Regions from separate parts of the Homo sapiens genome. Here region 1 is linked to region 2. The links come from fine-mapping of genetic effects on gene expression. A gene starts in region 2. The other region holds a variant in brackets. All regions are shown on one strand. Distances are between the middles of the regions.

The links. PIP is the estimated chance that this variant, and not a neighbour inherited with it, causes the effect. A credible set is the group of variants that fine-mapping cannot tell apart.
Region 1: its variant is the best candidate, but not a certain one, in a credible set for the expression of HCFC1 in T cells (TOPMed, PIP 0.90).

Annotation. Positions count from the first base shown.
Region 1 is chrX:154,317,538-154,321,916 of GRCh38, forward strand. It overlaps TKTL1 (transketolase like 1), which reads left to right. Exons shown (of 13, transcript NM_012253.4): 8 at 3,220-3,376. Among named protein-coding and RNA genes, the nearest start is that of TKTL1, 24 kb to the left of the region's middle. The variant G/A (reference allele first, on the strand shown) is at 2,405.
Region 2 is chrX:153,970,293-153,974,621 of GRCh38, forward strand. It overlaps HCFC1 (host cell factor C1), which reads right to left and starts at 1,526. Exons shown (of 26, transcript NM_005334.3): 1 at 356-1,526. The coding sequence starts at 548. TMEM187 (transmembrane protein 187) reads left to right here and starts at 2,462. Exons shown (of 2, transcript NM_003492.3): 1 at 2,462-2,568. RefSeq lists enhancers at 1-136, 126-975, 617-1,376 and silencers at 1,607-1,846, 2,077-2,526, 2,637-2,746.

The DNA of each region.
Region 1 (4,379 bases), 350 kb after region 2:
TTTTCAGTATCTCTGGTTCTCTTGCAGTTTGCTGGGAAGCCACTGGAGGGCTTTAAGCAGGAAAGCAACAGCCTGCGTTTTCCAAAACTCTGAAGACTGGAGAATGGCTTCACGTAGGAAAGGGAGGAGAAGGAGAGGGTGACTTGGACCAGGGCAGTAGCTGTGGAGTCGGAGGGAAGCAGACTTGTCACATATTGCCTTGGCAGGAGAGCCAGCAGGATGCCAACGGCAGGTGTCAGGACAGGACCCAAGGCTGGTGCTTGAGTGTGGGTGGCAGCACCTGGGGGAAGGTGGTGTCACCTCTTGAGATTGACAAGACTGGGGGAGAAGTGGACTGGAGGGCACCATCAGGAGCTCTGTGTGGGCCTGGGGGGTTGGGGCACCTGTTAGATGTACAGAGGGGAGACAGTGGTATCAGATGGCTGGGCAGTAGATCAGTCAGTCATTTTCACATGTGGCCGCTCCACACCACTAAATGCAGTTTTCTAAACTACATATTCGTTGGCCTAGTTTTAAGCTAACATCTTTTTTTTATTTTTATTTTTTGTAGAGATGGAGTCTTGCTCTGTCACCCAGGCTGGAATGCAGTGGCACAATCATGGCTCCCTGCAGCCTCAAACTCCTGGGCTCAAGGGGTCCTCTGGCCTCGGCCTCTTGAGGAGCTGGGAGCCGCCATGCTTGGCCACATCTACATTTTTAATCATAAATTTAAGTCGTTGCAAAGGATGTAGTTGTTCATATATTGACATTTTTGATACTTTAATACTCAAATCATGCCATTAATGATGACACTGGCTGGGCATAGTGGCTCACACCTGTAATCCCGGCACTTTGGGAGGCTGAAGCTGGAGGATTGCTGGAGTTCAAGAGTTCGAGACCAGGCCGGGTGCGGTGGCTCACGCCTGTAATCCCAGCACTTTGGGAGGCCGAGGCGGACGGATCACGAGGTCAGGAGATGGAGACCATCCTGGCTAACATGGTGAAACCCCTTCTCTACTAAAAATACAAAAAAAAAAAAAAATTAGCCGGGCGTGGTGGTGGGTGCCTGTAGTCCCAGCTACTCGGGAGGCTGAGGCAGGAGAATGGCGTGAACCCGGGAGGCAGAGCTTGCAGTGAGCTGAGATTGCGCCACTGCAGTCCAGCCTGGGCGACAGAGCGAGCCTCCGTCTCAAAAAAAAAAAAAAAAAAAAAAGTTCAAGACCAGCCTGAACAACATAGTGAGACCTGGTCTGTAATTAAAAAAAAAAAATTCATGCCAAGCCACTTTTCTTTGTCAGAAATTAAAACCCTTTTTCTACTTGATTTCCAATTTCCATTCCATTCATTTCCCCAATATATCTTTATGCATGAAAGCCTTTTATTGATTGTCCTATCATTTTTCTCTGCAACAAAAATATGCATATAAATTGATAGGTTTTTAAAAAATTATAATATAGGCTTCTGAGCATTAGGTTTTTTTTTCTGGACTGAGATAGAATTTTGATTATTATTAGCTGGTATGTTAGTGGATGAGTATACTTGTAGTTTGAATGTGATAGCATTGAGAACAGATTCTATTCCTGTTTTTCATCTTCATGATGTGCTATGAAACCTTACTTACATGAATAAGTAGATGGGAAGGGAAGTTTTGTTAGAGGAATGTCACTCAGTTCTTTGAATTCCTTCCCAGTTGTAAGTCAAAAAATCACATAGTGATCTTTCATGTAAAGTTGTTTATAAAAGTTATTTACAGAGTTGACAGTTTCATTAATTAAGTTCTTCACTTTCTCTCCACCAGCATAGTTATTTCAAATTGTCCTCTTTACTTGGGTCTGGAGGTTCTGCACTCCAGGATGATCCCCCTGTAAGAGTCAGGTGGCTGAGAGCATGCCCTTTGGGGATCAGGTTGCTAGAAGGTGATTGTTAAAAGAGACAGTGGGAGACCCAGGGGCAGTGGCTCACGCCCGTAATCCCAGAACTTTGGGAGGCCGGCCGAGGTGGGTGGATCACCTGTCAGTTCGAGACCAGCCTGACCAATATGGTGAAACCTCGTCCCTACTAAAAATACAAAAATTAGCCAGACGTGGTGGCGGGTGCCTGTAATCCCAGCTACTCGGGAGGCAGAGACAGGAGAATCGCTTGAACCCAGGAGGTGGAGGTTGCAGTGAGCCAAGATTGCACCAGTGCACCCCAGCCTGGGCAACAGAGCAAGACCCTGTCTAAAAAAAAAAAAAAAGACCATGAGGGGAGCACAGACCCTCCTTTTGGCAGATGAATGTAGACAGAGTTGATCTGGAGTTTGGGATCTTGAGTGTAACACCCACAGCCACATCCCCTTTGGAAAGCCTGTGTGTATCCGCAGAGAGGTTTGTATTCTAGTTTGAAGCCTTCTGGGGTATTTGAGCCCGGACTTCTGGGGAAGGGG[G/A]GTAAGGAATGGCAATGTAAAGTGGGGATCATTACCAGAATGCACATCAGGGGAGCATTGGGCCAGATGCGACTTCCCGAGGGTGCACAGGGCCCTGAGGACTTGCCCCAGCAGCGCCCATGAGGCGACAGCAGTGGGCCACTGCCACACTGCAGAAACCGAGAGGAGGAAATGCCTTGAGATCAGGGGCCAAGTCAAGTCACAGGCCACCCAAGGTCAGGCAGCCTCTTGGTTTTGTGGCTTCGAGGTCCCTTGTGGGGATGGTGGCCTAGATGAAGTAGGCTGGGAAGAGCGTGGAAAATGAGAAAGCAGGGGCAATGACTATAGGCAAGTTTTGAGAAGTTTGCTGCGAAGGAGAACACAGATGTAAAAGCAGGACAAGGCGGAGATGGGGCTGTGAAGATAAAAGGTGCTGGCGCACACCTGAATGGAAATAGAATGATCCAAGAGAAAGGGAAGTAGCACAAGAGGGGAGGAGGAGCTGCATGGCTGGAGACCCCTGTGAGAAAGCAGGAACAGGACAGATTCAGGATGTCCTGTCGGGGCATGGACCCTGGAAAGCTGCGGACACCAGGAGGGCAGGCAAGAGAGTCTCATCTCTTGCTCCCTAGGAGCTATGAGTTGAGGGCGCCGTCTGAGCAGGAGGGACGGACGGGTGCCCAGGGTTTGAGGAAAGAGGGGTGTGGGAAGGACGCATGCTAGAACTTCAGAGCAGTTCAGCAGGTGCAGAATGGGAGTTATCATGGGGACTGTGGGAGAAGGGGCGGTGGGGGCAATGCCCAGGGATGTTCTGATTCATGTTCTCTGTGCTGCAGGTGAGCGTGGCTCTGGGCTGTGCCTCCCGTGGACGGACCATTGCTTTTGCTAGCACCTTTGCTGCCTTTCTGACTCGAGCATTTGATCACATCCGGATAGGAGGCCTCGCTGAGAGCAACATCAACATTATTGGTTCCCACTGTGGGGTATCTGTTGGTAAGGGTTCTAAATGCCATCATCTTGGTAGCCTTCCTCCTTCACAGAGAAAGATTAGCATGTGATTGGTTAAACCACGAATTTCCTTATGGTTCCATGAAGTTTGATTATTCAAGCCTTTTTCTTGAAAAAGCCATATTGTACTTTAAAAGTGTCAGACTCTCAGGGCAACTTTTGAAGTGCATCTCTCGGTGGTACTGTTGTTTCAGACAGTGAGAAACAGTTGCTTATCCCGAGTGCCCCTTGTGTGTTGAGCTGCGTGCAGGTTATGGACAGGACTGGCAGAGTCATGGAGCCTTTTCTGCCCTCGCTGTGGTTGCAGTCTAACTGAGGGTGAACAGCATCACAGAGGACGAGGAGCATTCTGGCTGGCTGCACAGCCTGCTCAGGTGGGAGGGGGGCTGGGACCACCATCACCACCTTCCTGCCTGGGGCAGCGAGAACCCTGGAGCGTGACACGAGGCAGGAACTCTTACAAACACACCCTTCTCAGAGTAGTAGTCACCTGGCAGGTGGGCTAGAAGGAAACCACAGGAAACGGGAAGCCAGAGAGGGGATTGAAACAAGGTGTGCAAGGTGGTGGGGGAGAAAACCAGGGGGGTGGGGGGGGACCTGAGAGTGAAGAAAGAGGTGAGTGTGCCTAACAGATGGAGCACTCTGCAATGGCGTGAAGAGCAAAACACACGAGTCTCCGGGATTCCTCACTTGGGAAACGTCAGAGAGTCATTTTCGTGAATGACAGAAATGACATGGGAAAGATGAGCCAGCTGGCGTGCCTGTGGCAGGCAGATGGGCTTACTAGATGTGGCTGCACACACTTGCTTCTAGAATGCCAGAGATGCACGCTGGAAAGCCATCTCAGGGACTCCCTGGGAGAATGAGGCTGGACGAGATGGCTCTAGATGGAGCTAGAGTCACGGCTGTCTGGGTGAAGCTGGAGGCACAGGTGGTGGCCAGAGAGAGGAGGCGCGGCAGTGTTGCAGGGGCAGAGGGGCCTAGGAAA
Region 2 (4,329 bases):
AGTCGGACTAGGGGCTTTCTTTTAACTAACGAAAACCAATCCTCAAACACGGGAGAGACAAGGGAACGGGGAGAAGATCAGAGAAAAGCACTGAAGCCCGGCACAGCAAAGGGGAGGGGCAAGCCGATCAGTGGGGAGGGAGGGGGAGGAGGGGAGAAGGGGGAGGGGGACGGGGAGAGGGGAGAAGGACGGGTAAGGGAGGAGGGGAGAGAGAGAGGGAAGGGTAGAGGGTGAGGGAGGAGATGGAGGGAGGGAGGAGAGGGAGGGAGCAGATGGAGGGAGGGAGGAAAGAGGAGGGAGAGGGAGGAGATGGAGGGAGGGAAAGAGCCGAAGACCCAGCGGGCTTTGCACTCACCCGTGTTGTACACGTGCAGTTCGTCCACTATTCCCTCGTTGCCGCCGCCAAACACCACGATGAGCTCCTTGATGGCCACGGCGCGGTGGCCGTGGCGGGGCCGTGGCACCGGACCCGACCAGCCCACCACTCGCTTCCAGCGGGGCTGCAGAAGCACCGCTGGCAAGTTGGCGGGCGACACGGCCGAAGCCATAGTTCCGGGAAAGGGTGCGGTGGGGAGAAGTCAACAAGCGGGAAGGGAGCCCCTCAATTCCTTTCACACACCCCCTTTCGTCTAAGGCAGCTCTCACGGAGAAGCGGTTTCTCACACAGCGGTAGACGACTCCATGGAGGCCGCCATCTTAACTGCCCTCCTTCCCTTTGGCTCTTCCCTTTCTTCTCGCTCACCCCGTCTCCGCAAGAGCCGCCCGAAACTGTCGAGCGCCTAGGCTCAAGAAGCTGGAGGCCGCTGAGTCCCGTCGCCCCGACTACTTGTCCGGGCGCTCCCGCTTACAAGCTCGGGCGGGAGGCCCTGGGAGCCGCCATCTTGAGCCGCCTCTCTCTCCTCCCTTCCTCAGTCGTAGCCCTCCCCCGCCGGAAATGGCGGAGCCCCGGCCCGGTTCCCACACCCCCAAGTCCCCAGCACTGGCCGGCTTCCGGGGCGGGTGGAAAGGAGCCACAAGCGCCGCGGTCGTCGCAGCCCCGCCGGCGCTCAGACCACAATTGTGGGAGCCGCCATCTTGAGACCGTCCCGCTTCCCCGCCCAGCGCCTTAGTGCAGCCGCCGCTCCCGAAACAGCCTCGACACACCTAACGAATGGAGGCGGGCCGGAGGCCGGTGGAACCAGCTCGAGCTCTCGAGGGCCGTTTGGGGGCTCGCGCCGTACGGCTTGTGAAGTCTCGCGCCTCTCCCCTTAGTCCGCCTCTGCTGCTCAGGCTGCGCCTGCCGCCGTGGGAGCCGCCATCTTGAGACTAGCTCCCCGTTCCCCCCTATTCTCTTCCTCCTAGGTCAGTTCTTCCACTGCACACCAAACTCAAGGCGGTGTCCGATCCTCACTTCCCGCCTTATGACTCCTTCCCACAGGAGCCGCTTCAAAGAGCTAGAGTTAGGCCCCGAAGCGGCAACTGTACGGCAGAAGAAGCGGTAACGGCAGGGCGCTCATGCCTCCTCCCTGGGAGCCGCCATCTTGTGTGAAGAAGTAACAACTAAACATGGCGGCAGCGGCGCCGGCGGTCGGGCGAGGAGGCGGAGCCGGGTGACGTCACCGCTTCCCCCCACTCGCCCTCGCACCGCTTCGCCCCTGGGCCCAAGCCTCTTAAAGGACCCCTGCGCTGCCTCGCGGCGGGGGTGGGGGTCGGCGCTGCCGCGCGCTGGGCTAAAGCTCGAGTCGCGCTCAGATCAGGTGCAGGCGCAGGCGCGCCCCGCCCCACGGCCCCCCCACCGGGCGAGCCTCCACGCCTCCGCCCTGGGAGCCGCCATCTTGCCACTTCCCCTCGCCCGGCCGTCCGCGGGCGTCAATAGCGACTTTCAGCACAAAACAAAGATGGCGGCGGCGGCATCTCGGAAATGCCCGGATGAGACTGCTAACCCCTCCGACGCGCTCGGCCCCGCCCCCTTGGGAACGGTCTCTCGGGTTGATAAGGGACGCACGCCCGAAGAACTGCCTTTAACCAGCACTGGGGACAGCGGCACGCAGGTGGCCGGGGTTGGCGAACAGCCACTGCAGCCGCGCCTGCGGCCGGGAAGCGAGCATTTTCGCGCCCTGCACACCCAGCAGCCGCAGGAGGCGGCCCGAGGCGCGCCGCGGGGGAGCCGGGGGCGGGGCGACAGTGGGAGGCGACGCAGCCGAGCGCCGGCGCCCGGGGGTGGAGCCTCCGCCCGCTCCCAGGCTCCCAGGCTGCGGGGCCCGCCCTCGGGCGCCACCGCCTCCGCCCGCGCCGCAGCAAAATGAGCCGGGCCGCGCGCCCCAGACCGCCGCGCGCTCGGCCGCCCCCACTGCCGAGAGGCCCGCAGTCGGGCCGGTGGCGCACGAGCCGGGCGGGCGACCGCGGGAGGCGTCCGCGTCATCTCGCGTCACCTCGCCCCGCCCGCTTCCCAGGCTTCGAGTCCCGCCCTGCGCGCAGGCGCACCGGCGCTGCTCGGATCCTCCCTTTTCGGAGATTTGAATTTCCCCCAGCGAGGCGAGTGAGGCGAAATACCCGTATGGTGATAGCTGGCCTTTTCGCGCCAATACTGTAAGTGCTCACCGCAGCCCTGGGAGGTGGGTCCCGGCCTCGCCCCCACGTTTCGCCTCCTCTAGGAGGCCGCCCGGGCGCGGCGGCGGCGGCGGCGGCGGCGGCATCCGCCCTGCCACGCGCAGGCCGCAGCGCGGGGACCCAAGCTGCTGCCCGGGAGCGGCAGTCGCCAGTAGAAATGGACAGACCGGTCCTGTCAGAGCCTGTGGCTTTTGTTGTAAACGTCTAGAAGTTCAGTTAAATTACAAGATCTACCAGATCTACCGGCGGGCAGAATTATTACTTTGAAGTTACTGAAGTTATGCGTCCTGCTGGAAGACCTTGTAATTTAATGCGTTAGTAAAGAAGCACACGTCACCCTCTCACACATTTTCAACAATATTTTTAAAGTCGCCTCTCAACATATTACATGTATTTTGTAATCGTCTGTGTTTTAGTTCATGCAGTTGGAAGTATCCATTTGAGAAGGGACAAAGAGAAGAATTCTTGCCTGTCTGTGCCACCACCTGCTCTTTGTGACCTTGGCTAGTTACCTCACATATGTCCCCAAGTCCCCCACCCATGGTAAATAAGAAAACTAAGGCCTGATGCGTTGGCTCATGCCTGTAATCCCAACACTTTGGAAGGCTGAGGTGGGAGGATTGCTTGAGCCTAGCCGGGGCAACATAGCGAGACCCGGAGGCATGGTGGCACACGCCTGTGGTCCCAGGTACTTGGAACGCTGAGGTGGGAGGATGGCTTGAGCCAGGGAGTTCAGGGCTGCAGTGAGCTGAGATCGCGCCACTGCTCCAGCCTGGGCGACAGAGCAAGACCCTGTCTCAAAAACACACACACACACACACACACACACAAAAGCAGCTGCTGGTTTCCAAGGGCCTTGCCTGGAATCAGTCCAGAAGCTAAATTAATGTTAATTGATATTCCTTTATCCACAGAAAGACAGCAAGAAAGGTCATGCGGAGCGGGGGACATAACTAACCATAAATGCTAAAGGCCTGGAGGTGACAGTGCCTGCTGTTTAAACGCGTGCGGGAGAGTCTGGGGCCTTTAGCCAGGAGATTGTCAGGCTTCCCAGGGCTTCCCTGAAAGACCCCAGACCCAGGGGCCAGTGCTGTTGAGGTGTTGGCTTTCCCATGCCAGGCGCTGGGGGAAGCTGTGACGAGATTTGAGTGTCACATAATAAGGATCATGGCAATTCAAAGGTACAGGGAAGCTAGGCTATAAGGTAACCAGCTCGGTTTTCCTGGGGGTCTTGGACAGGTGCTTTGATTACATGGTCACTGTCAGCCCGTACCCCCGGTCAGATAGACTGAACCCCTGCAGCCGGAAAGAGGAGTTGCTTTCCATGCCCTTCCTGGAGTTCTTCCTCGATCAAGTTGACAGTGTTTGACTCTTGTTCCAGCTCTCCGCCCTGCTTGCTGGCAGGCAGGAGGGTCAGACTAGCATGGGTGCCATGGGGCCCTAGGTGGGTGCAGGGAAGGACCTGTAGACGCCATGCGGGGCCTCAGCTGGTGTCTCAGCTGGAGTCAGGAGCTGAACGGGGAAGTGCCTGAGAGGAAATGACAGCTGAGTCAAGGGCAATGGCCAGGCGAAGTGGGCAAAGGGCTTCCAGGACAGAGCTGGGCCTGAGGAGCTCACAGGGCTGGATGGGGATGGCACTTTAAGTCTGGCCAAGACTTTGGGACATGATCCAGGACATGGAATGGGAAGCTGGTCATGGAAGGGTGGAAAGCCAGGGCAGACATGATCCCATCCAGGGCT